4 separate regions of the Homo sapiens genome follow, and all the other regions are reported to be linked to region 3. The links are microRNA targets in miRTarBase. Many come from high-throughput screens and were not tested one by one. Region 3 holds a microRNA gene; each other region holds the end of a gene's coding sequence.
What was found. Region 3 holds the annotated microRNA hsa-miR-3620-3p (UCACCCUGCAUCCCGCACCCAG, at 4,646-4,667, shown strand). A microRNA usually pairs through its seed, bases 2 to 8, with sites in the 3' UTR of a target mRNA and lowers its output. Matches are read on the target gene's strand: a 7mer-m8 pairs with bases 2 to 8, a 7mer-A1 pairs with bases 2 to 7 and ends in A, and an 8mer does both.

Region 1: the mRNA of LRFN1 is a reported target of hsa-miR-3620-3p. Seed matches in the 3' UTR shown: 7mer-A1 at 1,790-1,796.
Region 2: the mRNA of CLDN7 is a reported target of hsa-miR-3620-3p. Seed matches in the 3' UTR shown: 7mer-m8 at 5,970-5,976.
Region 4: the mRNA of ENTHD1 is a reported target of hsa-miR-3620-3p. The part of its 3' UTR that is shown has no 7-base or 8-base seed match.

What each region holds. Positions count from the first base shown.
Region 1 is chr19:39,301,397-39,308,513 of GRCh38, reverse strand. LRFN1 (leucine rich repeat and fibronectin type III domain containing 1) reads left to right here. Exons shown (of 5, transcript NM_020862.2): 5 at 1-1,948. The coding sequence ends at 881. Among named protein-coding and RNA genes, the nearest start is that of IFNL1, 8.5 kb to the right of the region's middle. RefSeq lists an enhancer at 186-687.
Region 2 is chr17:7,254,314-7,261,421 of GRCh38, forward strand. It overlaps CLDN7 (claudin 7), which reads right to left. Exons shown (of 4, transcript NM_001307.6): 2 at 6,508-6,672; 3 at 6,329-6,413; 4 at 5,590-6,223. The coding sequence ends at 6,061. It overlaps ELP5 (elongator acetyltransferase complex subunit 5), which reads left to right. Exons shown (of 8, transcript NM_203414.3): 4 at 270-490; 5 at 2,544-2,725; 6 at 4,275-4,370; 7 at 4,513-4,613; 8 at 5,258-5,624. The coding sequence ends at 5,372. Among named protein-coding and RNA genes, the nearest start is that of CLDN7, 4.6 kb to the right of the region's middle. RefSeq lists enhancers at 6,554-6,603, 7,005-7,108 and a silencer at 6,804-6,933.
Region 3 is chr1:228,092,675-228,099,791 of GRCh38, forward strand. MIR3620 (microRNA 3620) reads left to right here and starts at 4,589; the gene lies at 4,589-4,667. ARF1 (ARF GTPase 1) reads left to right here. Exons shown (of 5, transcript NM_001658.4): 2 at 4,404-4,588; 3 at 4,668-4,778; 4 at 4,917-5,041; 5 at 5,178-6,538. The coding sequence starts at 4,441. The coding sequence ends at 5,339. RefSeq lists enhancers at 3,536-4,505, 4,506-5,475, 4,562-5,761.
Region 4 is chr22:39,737,534-39,744,650 of GRCh38, forward strand. ENTHD1 (ENTH domain containing 1) reads right to left here. Exons shown (of 7, transcript NM_152512.4): 7 at 5,511-6,750. The coding sequence ends at 6,146. Among named protein-coding and RNA genes, the nearest start is that of ENTHD1, 150 kb to the right of the region's middle.

The DNA.
Region 1 (7,117 bases), not on the chromosome of region 3:
TGGTGAATGACCTGGCGGCGGGCCGTGCCTACGACTTGTGCGTGCTGGCGGTCTACGACGACGGGGCCACAGCGCTGCCGGCAACGCGAGTGGTGGGCTGTGTACAGTTCACCACCGCTGGGGATCCGGCGCCCTGCCGCCCGCTGAGGGCCCATTTCTTGGGCGGCACCATGATCATCGCCATCGGGGGCGTCATCGTCGCCTCGGTCCTCGTCTTCATCGTTCTGCTCATGATCCGCTATAAGGTGTATGGCGACGGGGACAGCCGCCGCGTCAAGGGCTCCAGGTCGCTCCCGCGGGTCAGCCACGTGTGCTCGCAGACCAACGGCGCAGGCACAGGCGCGGCACAGGCCCCGGCCCTGCCGGCCCAGGACCACTACGAGGCGCTGCGCGAGGTGGAGTCCCAGGCTGCCCCCGCCGTCGCCGTCGAGGCCAAGGCCATGGAGGCCGAGACGGCATCCGCGGAGCCGGAGGTGGTCCTTGGACGTTCTCTGGGCGGCTCGGCCACCTCGCTGTGCCTGCTGCCATCCGAGGAAACTTCCGGGGAGGAGTCTCGGGCCGCGGTGGGCCCTCGAAGGAGCCGATCCGGCGCCCTGGAGCCACCAACCTCGGCGCCCCCTACTCTAGCTCTAGTTCCTGGGGGAGCCGCGGCCCGGCCGAGGCCGCAGCAGCGCTATTCGTTCGACGGGGACTACGGGGCACTATTCCAGAGCCACAGTTACCCGCGCCGCGCCCGGCGGACAAAGCGCCACCGGTCCACGCCGCACCTGGACGGGGCTGGAGGGGGCGCGGCCGGGGAGGATGGAGACCTGGGGCTGGGCTCCGCCAGGGCGTGCCTGGCTTTCACCAGCACCGAGTGGATGCTGGAGAGTACCGTGTGAGCGGCGGGCGGGCGCCGGGACGCCTGGGTGCCGCAGACCAAACGCCCAGCCGCACGGACGCTGGGGCGGGACTGGGAGAAAGCGCAGCGCCAAGACATTGGACCAGAGTGGAGACGCGCCCTTGTCCCCGGGAGGGGGCGGGGCAGCCTCGGGCTGCGGCTCGAGGCCACGCCCCCGTGCCCAGGGCGGGGTTCGGGGACCGGCTGCCGGCCTCCCTTCCCCTATGGACTCCTCGACCCCCCTCCTACCCCTCCCCTCGCGCGCTCGCGGACCTCGCTGGAGCCGGTGCCTTACACAGCGAAGCGCGGGGAGGGGCAGGGCCCCCTGACACTGCAGCACTGAGACACGAGCCCCCTCCCCCAGCCCGTCACCCGGGGCCGGGGCGAGGGGCCCATTTCTTGTATCTGGCTGGACTAGATCCTATTCTGTCCCGCGGCGGCCTCCAAAGCCTCCCACCCCACCCCACGCACATTCCTGGTCCGGTCGGGTCTGGCTTGGGGTCCCCCTTTCTCTGTTTCCCTCGTTTGTCTCTATCCCGCCCTCTTGTCGTCTCTCTGTAGTGCCTGTCTTTCCCTATTTGCCTCTCCTTTCTCTCTGTCCTGTCGTCTCTTGTCCCTCGGCCCTCCCTGGTTTTGTCTAGTCTCCCTGTCTCTCCTGATTTCTTCTCTTTACTCATTCTCCCGGGCAGGTCCCACTGGAAGGACCAGACTCTCCCAAATAAATCCCCACACGAACAAAATCCAAAACCAAATCCCCCTCCCTACCGGAGCCGGGACCCTCCGCCGCAGCAGAATTAAACTTTTTTCTGTGTCTGAGGCCCTGCTGACCTGTGTGTGTGTCTGTATGTGTGTCCGCGTGTAGTGTGTGTGTGTGTGTGTGTGTGTGTGTGTGTGTGTGTGTGTTGGGGGAGGGTGACCTAGATTGCAGCATAAGGACTCTAAGTGAGACTGAAGGAAGATGGGAAGATGACTAACTGGGGCCGGAGGAGACTGGCAGACAGGCTTTTATCCTCTGAGAGACTTAGAGGTGGGGAATAATCACAAAAATAAAATGATCATAATAGCTAACGCTTAGTGAATACTTACTTACTATGTGCCAAGCACTTAAGTCATTTAATTCTCACAACACCAGGACATATCGGTATTATTATCCTGTTTTCCAGATGAGGGAATTTTGGCCCAGAAAAGTTAAATAACTGGCCCAAGGTGGTAAAACTGGGATTTAAAAAGGCAGGCAGGCCAACTTCTGAGTCTCTACTATAGGGGTGAAAAGACAGCTTCCCCTTCACTCTCTGAAATTTCACTGGAATGGGCTGACAATAGATTAACAAGAGAAAAGGAATATGGAGGGTATTTAACATGCACTAGGAAAATCACAGGAAAGTGATTACCCAATAACCCAGTGAGGTTTATATACTTATATACCTTTCTTCACAGGAGGGGAGATGGGGAAAGGAAGGCAATTTTGAGGGGTAATAAATGATTTTGGGGAAAATAAATGGGTCCAGGAGATAGAATTTAGCTTGTAAATGTCTCTGGAATTTGAGACTGACAGACAGATAATTTCTTGTGACAAAGTCCGTCCAGGTGTAGACATTTCTCTGTCTTTTTTTCCTGTTAAAGATAATGAAATGTCAGGGAGAGGACAGAAGGCACTTGTGTTCTTTTTGATCTTTAGGCAGATAAGAAGACATAGGAGGAAAGCCTCTTCCAGCATCTATGGATCTCTAAGTGCCTTTAATTTAAAATAATCAGCATACCAGGGTGCCATATTTTGGGGTGACATTCCCTGAACTCCTTTAATACTCAACTAGAGCACTGTACTGCTGAGCAGTTATTGAATATTCATTCCACCCTCTGAGACCTCACAACTCAGTGGGGTAGGGTAGATCTATCCTTGGTCCCATTTTACAGACAAGAACCTGAACCACAGAGAGATGAAGTCACTTGCCGTAGTCCCTCCATCCCCCCAATGAATAAATAGCGGAGCTGGAAGTTTGATTGTACCCCTACACTATGCTGCCTCTGGGGTCTGTGTCCGGAAGCTGGGGTATGGCCCCCATGAGCTTAGCTGAGCTTGGATATCCACAGCTAGCCTGGTGAGCTCAGGGACAAGACCTCTTGTGTCGCTCTGCCTGGAATCTGAGGGACCCTGGCGGAGGGCATGGAGGATGGTGTGGGGAGAGGAGTTTCTCAGGTGAGGCTGAGGGCTGTGGCTGGGGAAGGAAAGCTGGTTGGGGAGAGGAGAGGGACAGACATCCCAGTCCTTGCAGGGGCCCTGCAGTGATAACACCTTCCTGATCTTGGGGAAGAAGGAGGAAGGCTTCTTGCCAGCCAGGGGCCCCCTGAGGCCAGGGGAGGAGGAGAGAAAGACAGAAATAGAAACGGAGCAGGAGGGAGGGGGATGGATCTAGGCAGACAGGGTGGGAGGCTGCTAGGACAGAGGCACCAGAGAATCACAGGCCAGGAGGCTTCCTCACCCAGGAGCCCAACCACCCTCATTTGTGTCAGTCATGACGACTCCTAGGTACTGAGGGCTTTTCACAAGCCAGGCACAGTGCTCCCAAACCCTCCCTGATGCACGGATAAAGAGCATGCAACCCAGTGCATGGCACATAATGCTTAGGAAATGGAGTTACTCCAATAATAAGTATGACTGCATTTAAAGCCTGCACAGGTATATGCAGTGTGTGCACACAATTTTCAAGATGAGGAAACTGAAGCTCAGAGAGGTTAAGGAGCATCTCCAAGATCACACAGCCAGTTAACAGCAGAGCCATGATTGGAAAGCTGACTGCCTCCAACCTGCACACAGAACCATCAGGAATCTTGTCTCTAATTCACTTGATAAAGCATTATTGAGCATGTATTATGTAACTGGTCCTATGTAGGGGCTATCGCAGTGAACAAAATAGATGAAACAAAACAAGAAAGCCCTGCTCCGTGGTGCCTATATTCTAGAGGGAGGAGAAATAAACAAATAAGCAATTAAATGAGTCCAGGAGGTTGAGGCTGCAATGAGCCCTGATTGCACCACTGCACTCCAGCCTGTGTGGCAGAGTGAGACCCAAAAAACAAGCAAACAAAAACGAGTAAATAATGCATGTCCAGTGGCAAATAAATGTTGTGCCAAGAATGAAAACAGGATGATGGCATAGAGAATGACTTTGAGGCCTACTTTAGGTGGGAGGGTGAAGGATGGTGATGACAGAGCTAAATAAATGCATTGTGAGAAAAGCAGGGAAAAGCATTCCTGGCAAAGGGAACAGCATGTGCAAAGACCCTTAGGAAGTAGTGTGCTTGATGTGTTGGAGGCAGTGTGTCTGGACTGAAGTGGGAAGAGTGAGAGGAGAGTAGGTGGGAGAAGCAAGTGGGTTCTACAGAACCTTGTGAGGTGTGGTCAAGAGTTAACATTTTATTCTTTGGGGCCATGGGAAGCCAATGAAGGGTCTTTACCAGGGGTGGTATGTGGTCTGATTTCTATGGAGACCCCAGCTTTGGGGTGAGGTATGCCTACCTTCAAAACAGAATTGGGGGTGGGTGCAGTGACTGACACGTAATCCCAGCACTTTGGGAGGCCAAGGTGGGAGGATCGCCTGAGGTCAGGAGTTCGAGACCAGGCTCGCCAACATGGTGAAACCCTATCTCTACTAAAAATACAAAAATCAGCTGGGCATGGTGGGTGCCTGTGATTTCAGCTACTTGAAAGGCTGAGGCAGGAGAATCACTTGAGATTACATCACTGCATTCCAGCCTGGGTGACAGAGTGAGACTCCGTCTCAAAAATAAAAAAAAAAAGAAAAAGTTGTGGGGTGATTGCAAAGCTACAAGGAACAGAGCTTTAGAGAAAGGAACCCAGACTCAACCCCACCAAGACACTCTCCCTACACAGCTCTCTTCTCTGCTTGGCTCAGCTCAGACTCATCCCTTTCAACTGCATGTGGCGGGGGAAAATGGTCATTTATTTACAGACACAGACTCAATCTTTCCAGAGCCCAGAGATAAAATGGCAGAATCTCTAGTCCTAAGAGAAAAATCTCAGGGAAGAGCTCTTATCGGCCTGGCCGAGGTCACATAGCAACCCCTGCACTGATTGCCGCATCCAAGGGAATGAATGGAATGCTTTGATTGGCCAGGTAGGGGGTGGGTGGGTCCTATGTCCCGGTTGTGTGTCCTGGGAAGTAGGGATTGCTAAATATTAGGTTGAACCACATGAACTTGCCATTTTTGTAGGTCACACATTGTATAGTATTGGCAATTTTATGTGGTTGAAGGTAAATACTCTCCAGAAAAAGTAGGATAAGAAATCTTGTTGGCTGGGTGTGGTGGCTCATACCTGTAATTCCAGAACTTTGGGAGGCCAAGGTGGGATGATCACTTGAGGCTAGGAGCTTGAGACCAGCCTGGGCAACATGGCGAGACTCTGTCTCTACAAAAATAAAAATAAAAAATTAGCCAAGCATGGTGGTGTGTACGTGTAGTCCCAGTTACTCAGGAGGTGGTCTTGAGCCCAGGAGTTTGAGGCAGCAGTGAGCTATGATTGAGCCACTGCACTCCAGCCTGGATGACAGAGCAAGATCTTAAAAAAAAATAAAACAAAGAAAGCTTGTTGCTGTAATATGCTAGTCTCAAAAAAGAAAAAAAAATAAGAAAGCTTGTTGAGCATATAAAAGCAATAGAGGCTGGACACAGTGGCTCATGCCTGTAATCCCAGCACTTTGGGAGGCTGAGGCGGGTGGATCACCTGAGGTCAGGAGTTCGAGACCAGCCTGGCCAACATGGTAAAATCCTGTCTCTACTAAAAGTACAAAAATTAGCCATGCATGGTGGCGGGTGCCTGTAATCCCAGCTACTCAGGAGGATGAGGCACGAGAATCACTTGAACCTGGGAGGTGGAGGTTGCAGTGAGCCAAGATCGCACCACTGCACTCCAGCCTGGGTGACAGAACTAGACTCTGTCTCAAAAAAAAAAAAAAAAAAAAAAAATATATATATATATATATATACACAAATATATATATATATACACACATATATATATATATATACACATATATATATATATATACACACATATATATATAAAATAAAAAATAAAGCAATAGAAACCCCGGTGTACTATGCAGAAGGATTTTTGGAGGAGGAAGTGATATTGTGGAAATGAGCCAGGTGAAGACTTGGTCGTGGGAGAGTGGTGGGAACTGTCCTAAGCAGAGGGAACCACTTAAGCAAAGGCCACCATGAGAGAGGACAAGGAAAACTTGTTACTGTGCTCTGGAGATGGAGTGCTTGCTCTAATTGATCAAATTGGAGTCATGTGTCCAGCCAAATGAGGGAGTAGGAAAGGAGGTCATTTCCGAAGGAAAATTGAAGCACTGTTACCAGGAGTAATGGATGCTGCTCAGGCAAAACTAAAATATATCCAGTTCAAAATCTCTTCTATAAAGCCTTGGCATCTCCAAGTAGAGATTTGCAACCTTGTTTTCTTCCATTGCAACATTCATAATTGAAGAGACTCATATGCCTGGGCTCAGACATGTCCTATATGATTAAAATTTTTATGAAATATTAATTGACCACATTCTCTGGGTTCAGTGCTGGCCATGCAGAGATGAATTTGTGGGGATACATTTGGCCACAAGAAACAGAAAAATCCAATTAACACGACTTAAGCAAGAAAGACATTCAGTTATGTCACCTAAGAGTAAGTCTGGAGTTAGGGGATTCTGGGGTTTGGTGCAATGGCTTATTAATATCAGCAAGGACCCCGTTTTCTACTCTTTTGTTCTACCTTCCTCAAAATGATAGCTTCACACCCTAAACTTGTTGCCTTGTGGTCACAAAATGGTTGCCATAGCTCTGGGTCTCACATCCTCATACCAATGAACTAAGCAGGAAGGAAGGGAACAAGTGGGAAAGAGTTCTGTTTGTATTAAGGAAGAAAAATATGTTAAAATAATAAGAGTAACAGCAACAAACACATGTATGGGGCTCCGCCTTTGCCAAGCTCTGTTACATTTTTTACATAAATTAACTTTTTTTTTTTTTTTTTGAGACGGAGTCTTGCTTTGTCACCCAGGCTGGAGTGCAGTGGCACCATCTCGGCTCACTGCAACCTCTGCCTCCTGAGTTCAAGCGATTCTCCTGCCCCTCAGCCTCCCGAGTAGCTGGGGTTACAGGCACGCACCACCACACCCGGCTAATTTTCGTATTTTTAGTAGAGATGGAGTTTCGCCG
Region 2 (7,108 bases), not on the chromosome of region 3:
TCTCATTTCACCAATGAGGCAACTCTTAGAAATAATGTATCAGTTAGCTGACCTTGGGCAAGTAGCAAAGCCAAGCTTGGAGATCAGGCTGTCAGACACCAAAGTCTGTGCTCTCAATCACTGTATGCTCTCTCTCAGTAATTATCTTTCACTAATATTTAGGATATTCATAAAAATTGAGAAAACAGCCATAAAGATCAGAGGATGAACTTTGTGATCCTCTCGGGGGAAGGGGCAATATTATATTGTGTCTTATTTTCCCTTTGCAGGCTGGTTTACCATGACTTCTTCAGAGACCCTCTCAACTGGTCAAAAACTGAGGAGGCCTTTCCTGGGGGGCCGCTGGGAGCCTTGAGAGCCATGTGCAAGAGGACAGATCCTGTTCCTGTCACCATTGCTCTCGATTCACTCAGCTGGCTGCTACTTCGCCTTCCCTGCACCACACTCTGCCAGGTCCTGCATGCTGTGAGCCATCAGGACTCTTGTCCTGGTGAGACCCCTCCTTCATTGTTTCCCCTCATACATCTCCCTCTGCCAAGGAGTGTGCCCCTTTTCCTTTCTACCCTAGAATAAACATCTGGGTTCTCCAGTCAGACCTTTTTTCATTTTTTTGACTTTTTTGTCTGTTTTTTTTTTTTTTTACTTCTCCTTAATGCCATCTACCATTTGCTTTTTTTTCTCCAAGTTATTTTTTTACTCATTTGTTTCACTCATTCATTCATTTAACAAATCAATAGTAAATATATACAATGTGTCAGGTACAATTCTAGATAATGGCAAAATACAGACTGACTGTAGCTGGGTCCTTGCCTTCCAGGAGCTCGAAGTCCCATAAAAGATGGAGATAAGTAAACAGGCAGTTACAAGATGGTCTGATAAAGGCCATGATGATACAGGCATGCACAGGGCACCTTAAAGAAGGGCACTCTTGGCCGGGCGCGGTGGCTCACTCCTGTAATCCTAGCACTTTGGGAGGCCGAGGTGGGTAGATCACAAGGTCAGGAGATCGAGACCATCCTGGCTAACATGGTGAAACCCCGTCTCTACTAAAAATACAAAAAAAAATTAGCCGGGCTTGGTGGCGGGCACCTCTAGTCCCAGCTACCCGGGAGGCTGAGGCAGGAGAATGGCGTGAACCCGGGAGGTGGAGCTTGCAGTGAGCTGAGATGGGCCACTGCACTCCAGCCTGGGCGACAGAGCAAGACTCCATCTCAAAAAAAAAAAAAGGCACTCTCTTGAAGAGCAAGAGGTCATCCAGGCAAATTTGGCCGGGCAGGGGCACTGAGACTAGCCTTGAAGTGCACTGTGGGTACTCGAATGGACTTAGGAGTCAGACGCCCAGCTTTGTATTAAGGTGCTTGATCTCTCATTGCTTCACTTTCCCCTGTATATGGGGGAAGGTACAAGGGAAGTATTAGGATGAACCACTATATTGCCATTTCTTAGGTTAAAAGTTGTTAAATATTGTCTGGGCGCAGTGGCTCATGCCTGTAATCCCAGCACTTGGGGAGGCCAAGGCGGGCGGATCACCTGGAGTTGGAGACCAGCCTGGCCAACATGGTGAAACCCTGTCTCTACTAAAAATACAAAAAATTAGCTGGGTGTGGTGGTGCACGCCTGTAATCCCAGCTACTCGGGAGGCTGAGGCAGGAGAATCACTTGAACCCAGGAGGCAGAGGTTGCAGTGAGCTGAGATCACGCCACCGTACTGCAGCCTGGGTGACAGAGAAAGACGTCATCTCAAAAAAATAAAAACAGTCCGGGCGCAGAGGCTCATGCCTGTAATCCCAGCATTTTGGGAGGCCAAGACAGGTAGATCACGAGGTCAGGAGTTCAAGACCAGCCTGGCCAAGATGCTGAAACCCCGTCTCTACCAAATACAAAAATTAGCCAGGCGTGGTGGCACGCGCCTGTAGTCCCAGCTACTCAGGAGACTGAGGCAGTATTGTTGAGCCCGTAGCAGGGGTTGCAGTAAGCCAAGATTGCGCCACTGCACTCTAGCCTGGGCGACAGAGCAAGACTCCATCTCGAAAAAGAAAAGAAAAAAAAATTGTTAAATGTCAGTGATTTCATACAGTTTGACCTAAAAACGCTGACCTTTGTAAGGATTCAAACATTGTGTTAAAGCGTTTAGCATAGTACCTGACACTCTCTAAATGCTCCCAAAAAGGGAGGCAGAGAATTGAAGGCACTGACTGAGATCTTGGGAAGTTCCAGAAACTACAAGTACTTCCGTGTGTAAGAGATGAGGCTGGAAAGTAAGTGGACACCACCTGCTGGAAGCGTTCGTTCCATCCTGAAGGCAGGAGCTGCTGAAGAATAGAAGTTAGAGCGGTGCCTTGATCAGCTTTACATTGGGATGATAGAGGAGATTAAGGTGTGGGCTGGAGGAGGCTCAGAGCACGGTAGTGAGATTGGCCAAGGGACGTCAGGATTTTGGCAGCACTGTGATGGAATTGTGAGGCTCTCTCTTCTTCACTGTTAGCTCCCAGGCCACCAACCTGAATGCTCCCTACTATCCTACATTTCTTGTCCTCCTCTAGGTGACAGCTCCTCAGTGGGGAAAGTGAGTGTGCTGGGCTTGCTACATGAAGAGCTTCATGGACCAGGCCCTGTGGGAGCTCTCAGCAGCCTTGCTCAGACTGAGGTGACCCTGGGCGGTACCATGGGCCAGGCCTCGGCCCACATCCTGTGTCGGAGGCCCCGACAGCGCCCAACTGACCAGGTCAGAAGAACCAACAGAGAAGGACTGGAAACGGGGGACAGAGAAAGGGGTGGCACGATGGGAAGAACAATGAAAATGCTGATGTTTCAAGGAGACTTTAAAAACAAACTTTTTTAGAGATGGGGTTTCACTGTGTTGGTCAGGGTGGTCTCAAACTTCTGGGCTCAAGTGATCCTTCCACCTCAGCCTCCCAAAGTGCTAGGATTACAGACGTGAGCCACTGTGCCCAGCCCTCAGTGAGACCTTTTTTTAAAAAAAGCTGATTTAGGTATTTCTCTGTTTTCTATCACTCACTTCATTTAATCCTCTCAGCTATGGTTAAGGTAGATTGTTTTATTATCACCATTTTTCAGGCTGGAAAGCCAGTCCAGGGAGGGTTTTATTCCCTTGGAGTTTTTTTTTTTTTTTTTATTGGACAAGGTCTCACTGTTGCCCAGGCTGGAGTGCTGTGGTGCAATCATAACTTACGGCAGCTTTGACCTCCCATGTTCAAGTGATCCTCCTGCCTCAGCCTCTGGTGTAGCTGGAGGTGGGAGCACAGGCATGTAGCACCACATCCAGCCAGCTTTTTAGTTTTTTATACAGATGAGATCTCACCCTGTTGCCCAGGCTGGTCTTGAATAACTAGGCTCAAGCCATCCTCTGGCCTTGGTCTCCCAAAGTGCTGGGATTACAGGTGTGATCCACTGCACCCGGCCCAAGGAGGTTTAAATTTAAGTCACTTACCAAGGTTATAAAGTGTAAGTGGGGCCCAGGCGAGGTGGCTCAGGCCCATAATCCCAGCACTTTGGGGGGCCGAGGTGGGCAGATTGTGAGGTCAGGAGTTCGAGACCGGCCTGGCTAACATGGTGAAATCTCATCTCTACTAAAAATACAAAAATTAGCTGGGCATAGTGGTGGGTGCCTGTAGTCCCAGCTATTCGGGAGGCTGAGGTGGGAGAATCACTTGAACCTGGGAGGCGGAGGTTGAGGTGAGCCGAGATCATGCCACTACACTCCAGCCTGGGCAACAGAGTGAGACTCCGTCTCAAAAAAGGAGTAAGTGGGCTGCTCTGCCTAAGGAGTCGCCATCCTTTTATTCCTTTACTTCCTTAATCAACTTGCTTTCACTTTTGAAAATAAAATAGAGGCTGGGCGCAGTGGCTTACACCTGTAATCCCAGCATTTTGGGAGGCCGAAGTGGGCAGATCACCTGAGGTTAGTGGTTTGAGACCAGCCTGGCCAATATAGCAAAACCCCATCTCTACTAAAAAGACAAAAATTAGCTGGGTGTGGTAGCACGTGCCTGTAATCCCAGCTACTCGGGAGGCTGAGGCAGGAGAATCACTTGAACCTGGGAGGCGGAGGTTGCAGTGAGCTAAGATCACGCCACTGTACTCCAGCCTGGGCAACAAAGCCAGACCCTGTCTCAAAAAAAAAAAAAAAAGTTGAGGGCAGGAGCTGAAAGCAGTCAGTTAAATAGGTGATTGGGGGCTGAGGATGTGAGGTCCTGGAGTCTGTCTAGTTTCTTCAGTAAGATGAAAAAAACTCTTTTCTTTTTTCTCTCCAGACTCAGTGGTTCTCCATCCTTCCGGACTTCAGCCTGGATCTCCAAGAGGGGCCCTCTGTAGAGTCCCAGCCCTACTCCGATCCTCATATACCCCCGGTATCTAAGAATGCCAAGGCCAGAACAAGGAAATGTAGTTTAGTATCTGGTCACGGGAGAGAAAATAAAAGCTGCAGAGGTTGGGGGTGGGGTCAGGGATTCTAGGGATGGGGCAGAGTGGCAGCATCCTTTGTACCTACAGGTGGATCCCACAACTCATTTGACCTTTAACCTTCACCTGTCCAAGAAAGAGAGAGAAGCCAGAGATAGCCTGATCCTGCCCTTCCAGTTCAGTTCTGAAAAGTAAGGTTGGGACCTGGGTACGTGGATCCCTGAGTAGATCCCAGCATCTGGGCCATGGAGAGGTTGGGGCAACAGGTTATTGATTAACCTGACTTTATAGGGACTGAAGTCCACCTCCAGAGACAAGTCCAAGTTCTTGATCCACCCATTCCCCCTATAATGGCAGAGGACCTTTATGTCTCTTTTCTCTCCCTTATACCCTTGGGTCACAGCTCCAGTTGTCCCCAGAGCACCCTGGGCCTGGGCTGAGCCAGACCAGACCCTTGGGAGGTGGCCCTATCCCTAGGCAGTGGTGCTAGGAGGACAGAAGGCTATATGGGCGTGGCAGAGGCTGGTTAACAAGGGCTTAGTACACGCTTGCTGTTCTGTGCCCAGTATGTGGGCGGATGACGCAAGACTACAAGATCCTTGCCCTCAAGCTGCTAGGAACTTACGGTTTTATTAGGAGAGCAGTACAAGGGTATCTATCCCAGTACCAAATGGTGCTTCAGCTCTAACATGGAGGTCAGAGAAAGGGACTTGGACCAATAAAATGACATGGAGGCCTAACAGGTTGCCTGAATGAGAGTCACAGTCACCTGGAAGAAAGTATCCAGACCCAACCTGTTAGCTACCCTCACCAGCACCAAATCTTCCCTTCTCAGACAGCAGGCTCTCCTGCGGCCTAGGCCAGGGCAGGCTACCAGCCACATCTTCTATGAGCCAGATGCTTATGATGACCTGGACCAAGAAGACCCAGATGACGACCTGGATATTTGACTGGCCAGATTTGATTAGATTGTAATTGGAGGGGGCGCGGGAAGACTTTGGGCCCAGAACCATCTTTCTATTGTTTGTGTTAGCCTTACCCTGTCCCTGCCCCACCTTGGTTCCCCTTGTCTATGGAGCCCCGCCTTGTGAGCCAGGAAGCAGCGTCTCATCAGGACAGAAGGTAGGATGAAGACATGGGGTAATGTGAGAGAGTAGAACACCCCCGTACCTAATAAAAATCTTTATTTTTTTATTAAAAAAGAAGTACTTTGGTAGCTATTTAAATAAGAGGGGGGTGGGAATGAATGTCGAGATACGAGCACCTGCATCTTTTAGTCAATTGTCAGTGGAGTCAGTGGGGTGCTAAGTGTTCTGAACTGAAGTAGGTGCACTAAGGTTCCAAGCTCCCTGCAAGGATCTGGACGGGAGGAAAGCAGAGGCCCTGAAGGGAAAAAAGCCTGCTTCCCAATACTTATTTTTTATTACTGTACAAAAAGCACACTCTCCCTCTTTTTGTCTCTCCCACCAACGGCACCCCCCCACCCCCAACCCAAGAGGACTATACATGGAGTGCAGGGACAGAGTGACCAGGAGGCCTTTGTCCGGCACCCTGCCCACAGGCTGAGCTCAGCCCCAGGCCCTTTCAGGCATCTAGACACTCCCATAGCCTGTCAGGCTGGGGCAAGGAGATCCCAGGTCACACATACTCCTTGGAAGAGTTGGACTTAGGGTAAGAGCGGGGTACACGGTACCCAGCCTTGCTCTCATTCCCAGGACAGGAACAGGAGAGCAGTGCACCTCCCAGGATGACTAGGGCAGACCCTGCCCAGCCAATAAAGATGGCAGGGCCAAACTCATACCTGTGAAGAGAAGGGGGTGGTTAGAAACCCTGGCGTGCCTCTGCCCTCCTCCCTATTCCAGGACCCCAGACCTGTCCCCTTAGGAGGCAGGGTTCCCAGACTTACTTAATGTTGGTAGGGATCAAAGGGTTATAAAAGTCTGTGACAATCTGATGGCCATACCAGGAGCAAGCTACCAAGGCGGCAAGACCTGGAGACAGAATGAGGGTTTCAGTATAGTGAGGCCCCAAATGGGCGCCTTGCCCAGCCTTGCTCCTCCCAGATGGGAGAACCCGGGGGCTCACCTGCCACGATGAAAATTATGCCTCCACCCATGGCTATACGGGCCTTCTTCACTTTGTCGTCTCCCCCACAGCGCGTGCACTTCATGCCCATCGTGGCCACAAACATGGCCAGGAAGCCCAGCACCAGGGAGACCACCATTAGGGCTCGAGTGGCCTGCAAGGCCGCTGCGGGCGAGGGGAAAGGGCGCCGTCATTGCTGGAAATGCAGGCGGCTCCAGCCTTCGTGCCGCCGGCCGCGCCCACTAACCGCTGGACCTCTTCTGTCCGGCGCCGTGTTCTGCCGAGGGCCAGGGGCGCCCAGGTGTCCAAGACCTGGGCCAAGCGGGCAGGTCCCCGCCCCTCCCGACAGCGCGGCCTTCCTGCTCCCGCCCCGCCCTCTCCGCTCAAGGATCCGCCCGGGGCGCCGGGGTTTCGGTGAAACTGCCCTGGATAGGGGGAAGGGTGAAAGGGTGCAGCGAAGAGAAGCCGAGACGGTGGTCCGAAGCCCCGCGCGGCGCACATGCCAGCCGGCGTCCCTGCTCTGAGCCCGCTATCGAGGCCACCGGGTTTGTGGCTTCGGCTAATCGGCCGATAAGATTAGAGGCAGCAGGCGGCGGCCCAC
Region 3 (7,117 bases):
TTCCGCCTGCGCCTGTTCCCTTCCCTGACTCATGCCAAAGTATCCCTGAGATCTGCAAGGGACCGAGGACAGTACTGGCTGGTGGTCTGGGTACAGGCCACAGAGGCATCTGGACCCCATGTGCATCTGGACCAGTTTGGTTGGATCCATTCATGGACACAAAACGGATGTGAACTCACAGAGCTACATTTTCTCCCTGCCCCTGTTCAGGCACAGTGAGGTGTCGGGGAATGTAGCTGCCAGAGTTGACTGTCCCGTTCTTTGGTGTAATGCCTGAAGGCCACCTTTACCATTGGTCTGTGGTCCTCACTGAAGAAAGAAACATTCTTCCTAAAAGACTTTTTTTCCTCAGAGTTGGAGCCCACAGCGTGGTCAGGAAAGAGAAGTAGCCACTGGTGGCTCCTGGCATCCTCCTGCTGGGCAGCCCCTTCTCAAAGTGTGAGGGGTCCCCTTGTGTACAAGCAGGAAGGCTCTGAGAAAGTCAGGTTTGCTCCTACCACAGGATAATTCCGATGAACCTGAAAAGCGGGTTTTGGCTTGTGTGCAGGGACTCTGGTGGAAGAAAGGGTGACAGCACCTGGCCTGGGCATGACACAAGTTAGGACCCGTACCAAGAGGCCCTGGAATTGAGGGTGGGGGTTGCTGTGGACTCTTTCTCCCTCTTAGGAAACTCTATTGGGTCTCCATCTGTCACAGAAGCAGTAAATGATGTAGGGGCTGCCAGGTATAGGGTCCTGTGGGGATGCTGGAACATGCCGAGGCAGGACGTGCCAGCCACCCTCTGCCCATATGTGCAGCAGGGCCACAGATGTGCTTGTCGGTAGGAGAGACCAAGCTGTCTGTGTGCCGATGTCTTGACACCTGAGACTTCAGGTTCACCCATCCTGGTTCTGCCATTCCATTGCAGGGTGGCTTCCCTCCTTTGGGGACTCTTAACGCTTTGGTCTGTTAAAAAAAAAAAAAAAAATCCGGGCGTGGTGGCTCACTCCTGTAATCCCAGCACTTTGGGAGGCCGAGGTGGGCTGATCATCTGAGGTCAGGGGTTCGAGGCCAGCCCTGACCAACATGGTGAAACCCCGTCTCTACTAAAAATAAAAATAAAAATTAGCTCAGCGTGGTGGCACGCGCCTGTAGTCCCAGCTACTCGGGAAGCTGAGGCAAGAGAATCTCGAACCTGGGAGGCAGAGGTTGCAGTGAGCCGAGATCGCACCTGAGAGGTTGCAGTGAGCTGAGATCAAGCCACTGCACTCCAGCCTGGATGACAGAGTGAGACTCTGTCTCAAAAAAAAAAAAAAAAAAAAAAGCCACCAATGGGGAGGGCCTGGGATTACTGGCATCACAAACCCCACTGCCTGCAGGCTGCATGATCTCCTGGGCATGGTTGGCGGCACTGCCCCGGGCATGAGGAGGCAGCAGGCATGTGTGGATCACGGACAGTGCTGGGGTCGAGGGGGTTGGTGACGGTGTGACACCCCTTCCCCTGAGTGGCTGGGTGTTACTGTCAATTCTCCCAAGTGCTGTGCTTCAGTGGTCGTGGCAGTCTGGTGCTGCCTCTGCCCAACTGGCAGGCGACCCTTATTCCTGAGTCCCTGCTGACTTGGTGTCCTAGGTTTATTCCTCCTAGACTTGTTAACTTGTACAGTTAACAAGCCTTTGACACCACACACCCTCGCCTCAGCTTTCCAACCCCCTAGTAATAACAACATCAGGACTCCCTGAGTATCCTCCACCATATGTTTTCCTGGAGTAACTCATAAAAGGCCCTCTTTTCGTTCCATTTCATGCTTGGGTTTTTCATGCGAACCTGTCATTATTAGTTTTTCCGCATTGCCTAGAGTTGCCCAACCCCATAATAAGAATACGTAGGTGGCGTGCCCCATTCTTGCAGGTGTCCACTTCCTGCTCCAGTCTGAGGGGGTTGGCTAGGCTGCTGCTCTCTCTCCATGTGGGGTTGGCTAGGCTGCTGCTCTCTCTCCACGTTGCTGTGGGCTCGCATCCTCTCCCTGGTTCCCTGGGGGAGCTTCTTAGGGAGGGAGCATGTGAGAGATCTGAGGCCCTGCAGTTTGGGAGTTATTTTCATTCTCCCCTAACACTTGTTGGATACTTTGGCTGGGTATAGAATTAAAGGGTTTCGAAAGCAGTGTTTCAGAGTCTTCCATTCTCTGGGGCATCAGAGGTGTCATTTGCCCCTGTGCATTCTGGAGTCCACCTTGCACCTTTATTGGGTCTCATCTAGGTCCTTGGCTTTGCGCTTCAGCCCTTTGAGGCCGAAGCCCAGATTCCTGGGTCCCCACTCTGGAACAGGGAAAAATTTCACCCCGTAATTTCGTACGTTCTTTCTTTTTAGGGTTTCTGTTGGTTGATATCTTAAGTTACTCCTCATCTTCCTTTTTCATTCTGTTTGTTTTTGTTCTGCCTTCTGAGCACCTTCATTTTGAATTTTCCTTTTCAGCTATTTGTGTATCTATCAGGTTTCTCTCCTTGTCCTTTGTTAAAATAGTATTCTGTCTTCAGTCTCCTGTCTTGGTTGCCTCCTTGCAGATTCCTTTTATATTTGGGTCTCTTATGTTGGTGGCCTTTCAAAGGCAGACAGGCCTGTCTCTTGGTGGGGGGTGGGGGTGGGCGGAGCTCCAGTTGCTTGTGTGTGGATCTGCTGGGGCATATAGAACTCTCAGGAATTATTCTGGAATTTCATGGCTCAAGTGTGTTGTCATGGCTCAGCGCAGGCCTAAGCCCTGCTGCAGCTGCTCCCCTAGACCAAGCTTGTCCAACCCTTAGGCCGCATGTGGCCCAGGATGGCTTTGAACCCGACCCAACACAAATTTCTAATAAAACATTGAGATTTTGGGGGTTTTTGTTTTGGTTTGGTTCACCAGCTGTTGTGTTAGTATATTTTGTGTGTGGTCCAAGACAATTCTTCTTCCATTGTGGCCCAGGGTAGCCAAGATTGGACATTGCTGCCCTAGGCAGTCCCAGCTTCATCCCTTGGGTCCCAGGCGGTCCAGTTTTCTCTGCCTGGTCAATCATCACATCCAAGGTCTTCCTCCCTTTTCTCTCTGCCCTTCAAGGCGTGTGTGTCATTTTGGTGTCTTCATTGGTAGTGGTTGCAGGAGTGGACTGAGAGGGCAGGTATTCAGTCTCTTCTGTGCTCCATGGGTGGTGGTCTTCCTCTGGGCTTAGAAAACCTGGCCGTCCCCAAAAAGGGAACACTACAGTGAAGGTCCTTATAAATTTCAGAACTCATTTAAATTTCAGAATAGGTGACATGTTCAAAACCAAGAGCAAAGTGTCCAAAGGACACTGATCCAGCTTGAAGGGGTTCTGTGGCTCATCTGGGATGATGGCAGTGTTAAATCAGACACGGGCGGCCAGTTCACACCCACTGAAACACACAGGCATGTGTGGGCTCTTGCTGATGTTGAGAAATGGAGAAGAGGCATTTCCTTGCCGTAGCGTGCTGGGGTGACTGGATGAGAGAGTCACCAGCGGACAGTCATGGCTGTGATTCAGCCAAAAGCCACCTGTGTGTGGAACCCCTGGTGGAGGAGGTCTGATGAGGGGTGGGTGTGCTCACAGGCTCCTGGCATGTCCTCTTGAAGGCAGAAGCCTTCCTCACTCGGGGTAAGCCCCGCTTGCGGGTGCAGTGAAGAAGCAGTCATTGTTTCAGAAAGTGACCAGTGTTTTCTAAAGTCCCTGTTCGGGATAAAATCACCTGATTCGTGAAATTGCCCACTGGCCAGTGAGGCCAAAGCCTAACAACTTCAGTGTCCTCACAGAGGCGTCTGGGCAGTGGAGGCCCTTCCTGCTGGAGTCTCCGCAGGGCTCTGATGGTGGGTGCCAGCTGACTTAATTGCTGTCCCCGATATTTGTGTTCTGCTGAGGGAACCCCTACCCTTGCGGTGTGGGGCAGACATGGCGGGCGTGCCCCATCGAGGCTGTGTCCTCATGGGAGTGTGTCCCTGAAGGTGTCCTGCTGAGTCTGGCGTGGCCCTGTGTGCTCTGGTCCTTGTGAGTGTGGGCAGGCACAGTGAGTGGTGCTCTCTGGCCCTGGAAGGTTCTGTGTTGGGGTGTAGAGGAGCCTTGCACGCACCTGGAAGCCAGTCCTCAGGCAGCCAGCCTCCCCTCCTGCATAGGCTGGGATGAGGCAGCCTTTCTGGCCATGCAGCTGTGGGGACAGCTTCCCAAGATGAGGGCAACAGTTTCTCAATTCCTGACTCAGCCATTTTCCCTCAGCCCCCATCCTGAGGTGGATTTGGGGGGCATGGGAGGCAGGGCTCTTTCCCTGTTTCCCTGCAGGCTTCCAGGAGGTGGGGTGAGGCAGTGGTGCATCCCTGGGTGGGTGGGTTCTGAGCAACCACTGCTGGGCAGCACAGAACCAGACATGGAGCACCTTGTCTCTCCAGGTGTCCCTGGCCAGTGTCCTTCCACCTGTCCACAAGCATGGGGAACATCTTCGCCAACCTCTTCAAGGGCCTTTTTGGCAAAAAAGAAATGCGCATCCTCATGGTGGGCCTGGATGCTGCAGGGAAGACCACGATCCTCTACAAGCTTAAGCTGGGTGAGATCGTGACCACCATTCCCACCATAGGTGAGGTGGGGGCCAGCAGGGAGTGGGCTGGGCTGGGCTGGGCCAAGGTACAAGGCCTCACCCTGCATCCCGCACCCAGGCTTCAACGTGGAAACCGTGGAGTACAAGAACATCAGCTTCACTGTGTGGGACGTGGGTGGCCAGGACAAGATCCGGCCCCTGTGGCGCCACTACTTCCAGAACACACAAGGTAAGTGGCTGGGGCCTGGTCCCATGGGCACTCCTGCTTCTAGAGAGGGGGGGCCAGCCCATAGATGGGGCATCGATGCCCATAGATGCGGCAGGGGGGCTGTGTTCCCATGACCATTTGACACTGGCTGCCCGGCAGGCCTGATCTTCGTGGTGGACAGCAATGACAGAGAGCGTGTGAACGAGGCCCGTGAGGAGCTCATGAGGATGCTGGCCGAGGACGAGCTCCGGGATGCTGTCCTCCTGGTGTTCGCCAACAAGCAGGTAGGCGCCCGGGCCAGCCTGGGGAATGTGAGGAGCCAGTGTGGGTTCCGCCTGGTGGTAGGGGTTACTGGAGGCTGGTGGGGCCCCTTTCTCTGTCCTGTGGACAGCCCTTCCCACCAACCCTTCCTTCCCCCAGGACCTCCCCAACGCCATGAATGCGGCCGAGATCACAGACAAGCTGGGGCTGCACTCACTACGCCACAGGAACTGGTACATTCAGGCCACCTGCGCCACCAGCGGCGACGGGCTCTATGAAGGACTGGACTGGCTGTCCAATCAGCTCCGGAACCAGAAGTGAACGCGACCCCCCTCCCTCTCACTCCTCTTGCCCTCTGCTTTACTCTCATGTGGCAAACGTGCGGCTCGTGGTGTGAGTGCCAGAAGCTGCCTCCGTGGTTTGGTCACCGTGTGCATCGCACCGTGCTGTAAATGTGGCAGACGCAGCCTGCGGCCAGGCTTTTTATTTAATGTAAATAGTTTTTGTTTCCAATGAGGCAGTTTCTGGTACTCCTATGCAATATTACTCAGCTTTTTTTATTGTAAAAAGAAAAATCAACTCACTGTTCAGTGCTGAGAGGGGATGTAGGCCCATGGGCACCTGGCCTCCAGGAGTCGCTGTGTTGGGAGAGCCGGCCACGCCCTTGGCTTTAGAGCTGTGTTGAAATCCATTTTGGTGGTTGGTTTTTAACCCAAACTCAGTGCATTTTTTAAAATAGTTAAGAATCCAAGTCGAGAACACTTGAACACACAGAAGGGAGACCCCGCCTAGCATAGATTTGCAGTTACGGCCTGGATGCCAGTCGCCAGCCCAGCTGTTCCCCTCGGGAACATGAGGTGGTGGTGGCGCAGCAGACTGCGATCAATTCTGCATGGTCACAGTAGAGATCCCCGCAACTCGCTTGTCCTTGGGTCACCCTGCATTCCATAGCCATGTGCTTGTCCCTGTGCTCCCACGGTTCCCAGGGGCCAGGCTGGGAGCCCACAGCCACCCCACTATGCCGCAGGCCGCCCTACCCACCTTCAGGCAGCCTATGGGACGCAGGGCCCCATCTGTCCCTCGGTCGCCGTGTGGCCAGAGTGGGTCCGTCGTCCCCAACACTCGTGCTCGCTCAGACACTTTGGCAGGATGTCTGGGGCCTCACCAGCAGGAGCGCGTGCAAGCCGGGCAGGCGGTCCACCTAGACCCACAGCCCCTCGGGAGCACCCCACCTCTGTGTGTGATGTAGCTTTCTCTCCCTCAGCCTGCAAGGGTCCGATTTGCCATCGAAAAAGACAACCTCTACTTTTTTCTTTTGTATTTTGATAAACACTGAAGCTGGAGCTGTTAAATTTATCTTGGGGAAACCTCAGAACTGGTCTATTTGGTGTCGTGGAACCTCTTACTGCTTTCAATACACGATTAGTAATCAACTGTTTTGTATACTTGTTTTCAGTTTTCATTTCGACAAACAAGCACTGTAATTATAGCTATTAGAATAAAATCTCTTAACTATTTCACCGGCTCTCCAGTGCTTCCACACAGGCATGCTGCCCCCAGGAGATGGTGGGTGCATCAGCCAGCTTTACTCTAGGAAGTACAGGTGACTGCCTAGGGCCGCCACCTCAGTCCACACCCTCCCCATGTTCCCTCCTGAGTGTGCAGGCACTTCTCTGTGTCTGTGTGAGAGGCTCTTCCAGCATGGTTGCCCACAGTGACCTTGATCTCGTTTGCAGTCCTGTCGGGCCCAGCCAATGAGACCTGGGCCATACAGGGCAGGGGTCAGCAGGCACCATGGAAGACCTCAGCCTCCGTCCTTCCCTCCATCGGCCTGCTGCTGAACCCCACTTTGTATAGCTGGCTATGGGGCAGGGCCACTGCTAGCATACATAGGGCTTTGTGCCAACCAGGGAATGGTCCCTGCCTGAGTGGGCACAGCCCCCACCTCTCCTCAAGATGCCATGCAGCAGGGGGCTGCCAGTCTGGGGGTACCTGTTTCTGGGATGGGGCCATCAGCAGGTCTAAGGTCTGCCTTCTGTTGGGCAGAGTCCCAAAAGAGAGGGCTGCCCTGGCTAGGTGGCCCAACCTTCATCCCCCTT
Region 4 (7,117 bases), not on the chromosome of region 3:
TGGCACATATCTTCTGGCTTAACAATAATATGCTTGGCCTCCTTAAATTACTTGGTGTTCTGCAAGAAATAAAAATCTCTCAAATCTACACACTAAACCCTTTTATCACATCTCAGAATCTACTCTATTAAAAATAAAGTAAAACCTAGAAAACCAGTCCCCAGTATATTGAATATGTAACTGATTCACCCAGTTGTTCTCAGTATTCCCTTTCTCTTTAAAATGAAAGCACACAAAAGGAGGGACTCCTTGTATATTCAGGGCAAACCATTGTCACAATGAACTCATTTGGAATGGATTTTGGAAGCTCTTCAGTCTCCAGATTTCTATGACACTCTATTTTTCAATACGATCCATTTACTTGTCACTCAGTCTTTTTCTTTTATTCAGTCTGCACTGGTCACCTAACCATCACCTACTGTGTCACTGCATAAAATCTGAAACTGCAGTGATTCAAATTTCTGACCCACCACTAGTTTTGTACATCCTGTATTCAAGCTCATCAAGTTCTCTCTTGCCCCCAGCTTTTGAACATGCTGTCCTCTCTGCCTAGAAAGCCCTCTCTCCCCTAACTCATTTTGCTGGACTGACTCCTAGTTATCCTTCAGGATTCTATTTGGACTTCATTTCCTCCACGCAGCATCCCCTGAGGCCCTAATCGGAGCTGGTTGTCCCGCTTTATCAGGCTCTGCCACACCACGCTGTGCTCAAATTTATAGGACCTAAATATTGACAGTAACTACCCACTTAGCTGTCTGTGTCTCCACTGAACTAGCTCCGAAGGCAGTAAGCACACCCATCCATCCTGCTCACTATGGTGTCCTCAGTGTCTAGCAAACTGCCTACTCATCATAGGTGCTTAATACATATTTAAAGAATGAACACACCAGTAATTTGACAGTAAGCAAACTGTAAAATATTTTTATAACCGCCTTATAAAGTAGGATCCTCAAGTGCCAAAGTACTTAAGAGAATAACATCTAATGAAGTATTTTTAACCTAAGATAATTACCAAGTCAATCAGAATACAGCCACTCTTAATTTAAGCCAACTTTGTTCTCTTCATTTAATGGAATTGGCTAAATAGAGGCTCAAATAAGTGCTTGTTAATTATACTAATTAACAAATGTTTGCATGGTTGCATTAAAATATATGAGCTCTCTAAAACCTAGTTAAAATCTGAGGTTACCATGTGCATGTAGTGAGCTCAGAGTAAGTAAGGTAGTTTCTTAAAGGGATAGTTGTTGCTGCCTCAGTTATTTGTGGGGTTTCTCTGAGTATTCAAGACACCCAATGCTGCAACTTTTGGTTAGGGGGATGGGGAGGGAGGAATGCTTATCTCTGGAGGCTTTTTCCCTTCTCCATTCTTAGCAATGTACAGCTAAGAAATTTTACAGCCAGTACAAAAAGGGGATGCTGTATCCCAGTAGTAACTCCCTAGGAATCCACTGGCAGATTTCCCAGATGTATGAAGAAAGCCCATGGAAGATGTCTTCATATTTAATTCTTATTTTATTTTATAAAGAAGTTTATTTGCATTCCCTTTTGTATTCTCAGGGCCTGGTACGAGCCTTACAATAGTAGGTACTCAGACAGGCACCTGATAGGTAAATGATCGCAGAAGCCACCTTTCCCTAAAGGCATTTGCTGAGTCCAACAAATTCCAACTTCCATTTTGATGGTGAAAGAACAGAAATCACCTTCATAAAAGGTGGGAAGTCTAACACGAGATGCTCCTTACAATAAAGGGAAATCTAATAGCTATGCAGTGAGAATGAATTGGAGATAAACCAACTCTTATGAGGAATTTAAGTCTGGGATTAACCTAGGTATTCTAGAGAACTTTAAGCCGTGACCTAAATTGACTTAACCTATGTGGGAGTACACTAGGCACTTGGCAGAAATAAAAAGCAGGTTCTCGTATTATTCATACAAATAATTTTCCAAGTATCATGACCAGCTCATAGTCAAAGATAATCAGGCACACAAGGAAATGCAACACCATGAGCACAAACCAGCAGAGATATCAAATTAACAAAAACTAAGATCTAAACTAACTTTTGCTGTTATTAGTTTATCCATATGCATGAAAATTAGGAAATGTACCTCTCTACTTCTTCATAATAGGAATTAGAATATATTTGGAGCCAAAAGACAGTGAAAATACTGTATACCAAAACTCATGGTAAAATGGTACAGCCACTCTGGAAAATAGTTTGGCAGTTCTTCAGCAAGGTAAACATAATTACCATATGACTCAGCAATTCTACTTCTAGGTATATGCCCAACAGAAGTGAAACACATTCACACAGATGTTCACAGCACCATTATTCACAATAGCCAAATAGTGTAAACAACCCAAATGTCCACCAACTGATGAATGGATAAACAAAACGTGGTATATCCATACAATGGATATTACTCAGCCACAAAAAGAATGTAAGCTACATGCTAAAACATGAATGAACCTCAAAAAAGTATGCTACGAAGTCAAACACAAAAAGCTATATTATATAATTCCATTTGTATGAAATAGCCAAAATAAGCAGGTTCATGGAAACAGACAGTAAATGAGTGGTTGCTGGGGCTTGGAGGAGGGGGGTGTGGGGAGCAGCTGCTAATGGGGATGAGGTACCTTTTTGTGATGACCTAAATGTTCTGGAATTAGATAATGGTGATGGCTGTGCAACCTTGTGAATACAGTAGAAATCACTGAATTATATACCTTAAAAAGGTAAATTTTATGGTATGTGAATTATATTTCAACTTTAAAGGCTTTGTGGGATGCAGCTATACATTTAAGCTATTTAATCTTAAATACATATATTAAATGATTATTACTAGTTTGCTGGTAAGAATACTCTCTAGTTTACTTAATATTCTTTATTTTTCTTTTTTTGGACAGGGTTTTACTCTGTCTCCCAGGCTGGAGTGCAGTGGTGCGATCACAGCTCACTGCCACCTCCATCTCTCAGGCCCAAACAATCCTCCCATCTCAGCCTCCTGAGTAGCTGGGACCACAGGCACATGCCACCATGCCCGGCTAAATTTTCTATTTTTTGTAGAGACACAGTCTAGCTATGTTGCCCAGGCTGGTCTCGAACTCCTAGGCTCAAGTGACCCTCCCACCTCGGCCTTTCAAAGTGCTGGGATTACAGGCATGAACCACCGTGCCCGGCCTAATATTCTTACCAGTAAGAATTCTATACTAGTTTGGTTACTATTCTTAATAGTAAAGATATACTTGAAAATATCTGCAATAAACATTGACTTATAAAACTGTAGCAAATTTTAAAAGAACCAAGTAGAATTCTAGAAATAAAAAATCTAATAACCTAATTAAAATCTGAGGGATGATTTGACAATGGACTAGACATAGCTGAAGAGAGAAATGATTAACTGGAAGGTAAGTTGGATAATAATTACCCTTGATCATGTAATTAGTATGTTCACCATAAGTGTTGTGAAGTGTCAAAATGTCTGCAACTTACCTTCACAAAGTTCAGTAAAACATGTCTCTCTATTGATATAATGCATATATAAACATGTTTAGCAACAGAGGGAGATAAGGTGAACATGGCAAAATGTTAACAACTGGTGAATCTATGTAAAGGGCATATATTCAATGTACAACTGTATACTCTTGGTTTCCAAACACAACGCGCTATTGTTTAATTCTACCTGGGTGATGGCTTGTTCTCAGTTTCCTTCATTGGCTCTTCAACTTTTCCTTAATCTCTTTGTTATAATCGCCTAGGACTCAGGCCTTCAACTTCTCTCCATGATCATGCTTAGCCTGTTGGTCATTTCATTTCATCTCATAGTTTTAAATAACCACCAAATCCTAACTGCCTGCCTCCATTCCAATCTAGACTCCCTCACAGACTTGGCTTTCACATCCAGGTGCCTACTTGGCTATCTAACAGATAATTGAAATTAACATATCAAAAATTGAATGTCTCTAAATTTTCTTTACCTATAGCCTTCCTCATCTCAGTTGATGGCAAGGTCATCTTGAATTTCTGTTGCTTGGTCCAATACTTTGAGTTTGTCATTGACTCTTCTTTCTCTTATAAATATTTTGTCCAATCCATTAGTGAATCCCTGAACTAATAACTTCTCACTCACCCTCACTATGCCCACCCTGCTTTGAGCCATCATAAGCTCTCATCTGGATATCTGCCACAGCCTGCTAATTGGCTTCCCTGCCTCACCCCATGTTCTTGTACCAGTTCCCCTGCCAAAGCAAGAGCAATCATTTAGAATCAAAGTTGCCGGGCGCAGTGGCTCACACCTGTAATCCTACCACTTTGGGAGGCAGAGGCGGGTGGATCATGAGGCCAAGGGATCAAGACCATCCTGCCCAACATGGTGAAACTACTAAAAATACAAAAATTAGCCGGGCGTGGTGGCGGGCACCTGTAATGCAGCTACTTGGGAGGCTGAGGCAGGAGAATTGCTTCAACCCGGGAGGCTGAGGCAGGAGAATTGCTTCAACCCGGGAGGCAGAGGTTGCAGCAAGCCAAGATCGCACCATTGCACTCCAGCCTGGGCGACAAAGCAAGACTCCATCTCAAAAAAAAAAAAAAAAAAAAAAAAAAAAAAAAGAATCAAAGGTCACATATCATTTTATATCCTAAACCCCTATCCTAATTTTTATTTTCACAGAGTAGAAGCCAAAATCTCTAACAATTTTTTTTTTTTTTTTGAGATGGATTCTCACTCTGTTGCCCAGTGGCTGGAGTGCAGTGGCACAATCTTGGCTCACTGCAAGCTCCACCTCCAGAGTTCAAGCGATTCTCTGCCTCAGCCTCCCGAGTAGCTGGGATTACAGGTGCCCGCCACCATGCCCGGCTAATTTTTTTTTGTATTTTTAGTAGAGACGGGATTTCACCATCTTGCCCAGGCTGGTCTTGAACTCCTGACCTCGTGATCCACCTGCCTCGGCCTCCCAAAGTGCTGGGATTACAGATGTAAGCTGCCACACCAGGTCTCTCTAACAGTGGTTTTTAAGAACCTATGTCATCTGTCATCTTTGCTCCATGACCTTGAACTCCGTCTACTCTCCCCTTTGCTCACTTCACTCCAGCCACACCAGCTTTCTTGCCATTCTTCAACCACGCCAAATTCCTCCAGCTTTAAGGTCTTTTCACTGACAATTCCTTTATCACTTAATCCAGTCTGCATGATGAAAACCAGTTTCAATTTGTCTGGGAGCAGGACCCTGGCATTAGTATATTTTTAAAATGTTTCGTATGTCTTCAAAATAATCAGGATTATTTTAGCCTCGAGTTGGTAATTGTTGAAACTGAGTGATGGGCACATGGAGCCCATTACACGATTCTCTCAGACAAATATAAAACAAAAGAAAAGCTTCTGTGGTGATTCCAGTGTGCAGCAGGGTTGGGAATCACTGGCCTGTAATCCCCAAACCGGACTGTTTTGCCCATAAATAACAGACATTTCTATTTGAAAGGCTGTCTTAATGAATTAAAAAGATACACAGAAGATGAAAAATATCAAATTTATTTTCTGAAGTAGAATAAAAGGATGCATTTGAATTCACCTTGCAATATACATTGACAGTAAAAACATTTGCCCCATGTCCTTCTTGTTTCCATTTAACTCCTAACACTAGCATCTGGAAGAAAGAAAAGATTTCTGGCCCTTGGTTGCAGAACCTAAAACTTGCAAAAGAATGTGTGAAATGTATACCCCCAAACTCAATCCTCCTAGGTCACCTCAGAGGCTTGTTAACAAGCTCCATACAGTTGAAAGATAAAGAGCTTCTTCCTGCCTCCTTATCCAAAAGCTCTTGAATAGTCATTTGCAGTTTGAGGTCTTACCACAATTTTCACTAATGCTTAACCCATTTGAGGTACAGAGCATGAAAGAATGAAATTCTCTTCTGTTTCAAATGAACTAATATCTAAATCTGAAATTATCAAAGGTGACATCTTTCCCTTTTAAAAAATAAACCACCCAAATGAAAGTATTAGTTTGAAAGATACTTGCTAATAAACCTGACAAGGAAAAATTAAACCATCCCCTTTTTTGCCATAATAATATGAATTTATACAATGCTAACGTAAGTCTTGGGGAAGTGGAACCACACGAGTTCTATCAAAAATAGATATTGTGATGATTAGATCTGATCTGAGCTCCCCTCAGAAGACTGGGGGACCTGGGAAGACTGGCTTATTTGTGAACTATTCAGACTCATGCTCATCAAGATGTTATTGATGACATTAAGTTCTTGGATCACTGTGCTCAGATCTTCATGTAATCTAGCGATCGCACGTTTTACCTCCCTTAAAAGAACACTAATGGAATTCTTTGCTTCAGGTTCCTGGGGGAAGTCTTTGGTTGACTGAAAACCAGAACAGGACAGAGGGATGAACTGGTCTACATTTTGGGTGGAAAACTCCCCCCAGTGACTACTAGAAATGTGACTTATATTCTTTTTAGCAGAATCAGAGTTATTTGGAAGAATTCCCAGTAGATTGAGGCTATCATTTTCCTCTACATCAGAAGACACTGGGCCCCTAGAAGCAAAGGAGTGATGCAGCTTGGCTGTCTTATCTTCATCTTTAAAGGAGGTAGAAGACAACTGTTGATGGGACAGAGTCCAGAAGGAAGGTCCGGCCAGAATTGGTGATAAGAGATGAGCTGACTTCTCTGGAGAGGCTAAATCAGGAGATGACATGGATAAAGGAGAAAAGGAAGATGCTCCCTCAGAAGCAGTTGAAACTAAAATGTGTAAATGAGAGAAAAAAGATTTATGCAACATACAAATGAGAGTAATAGCTAAAATAATTTTATAATGTAAAAGCCTATCTGGAAGGGCTCAACATAAATAAACTGCTTAGAATTTTAAATGTTAACTATTCATAATAAGCTTAAAAAAACCCAAAGCAGGAAACTAAGAAAATCTACAGATGTATTATATATCAATAATACCATGGAAATGAAACTAAAATAGAATTATCAATATTCATCTTGACTCATCTTGACTCAAACCCTGCCCAACATATTTTTACACTAAACTTAATCAGAGAGAGTAGAAAAGTATTAAACCCCATTCTACTGACTGCCAGCATTTTAAGTTGGTATTTAA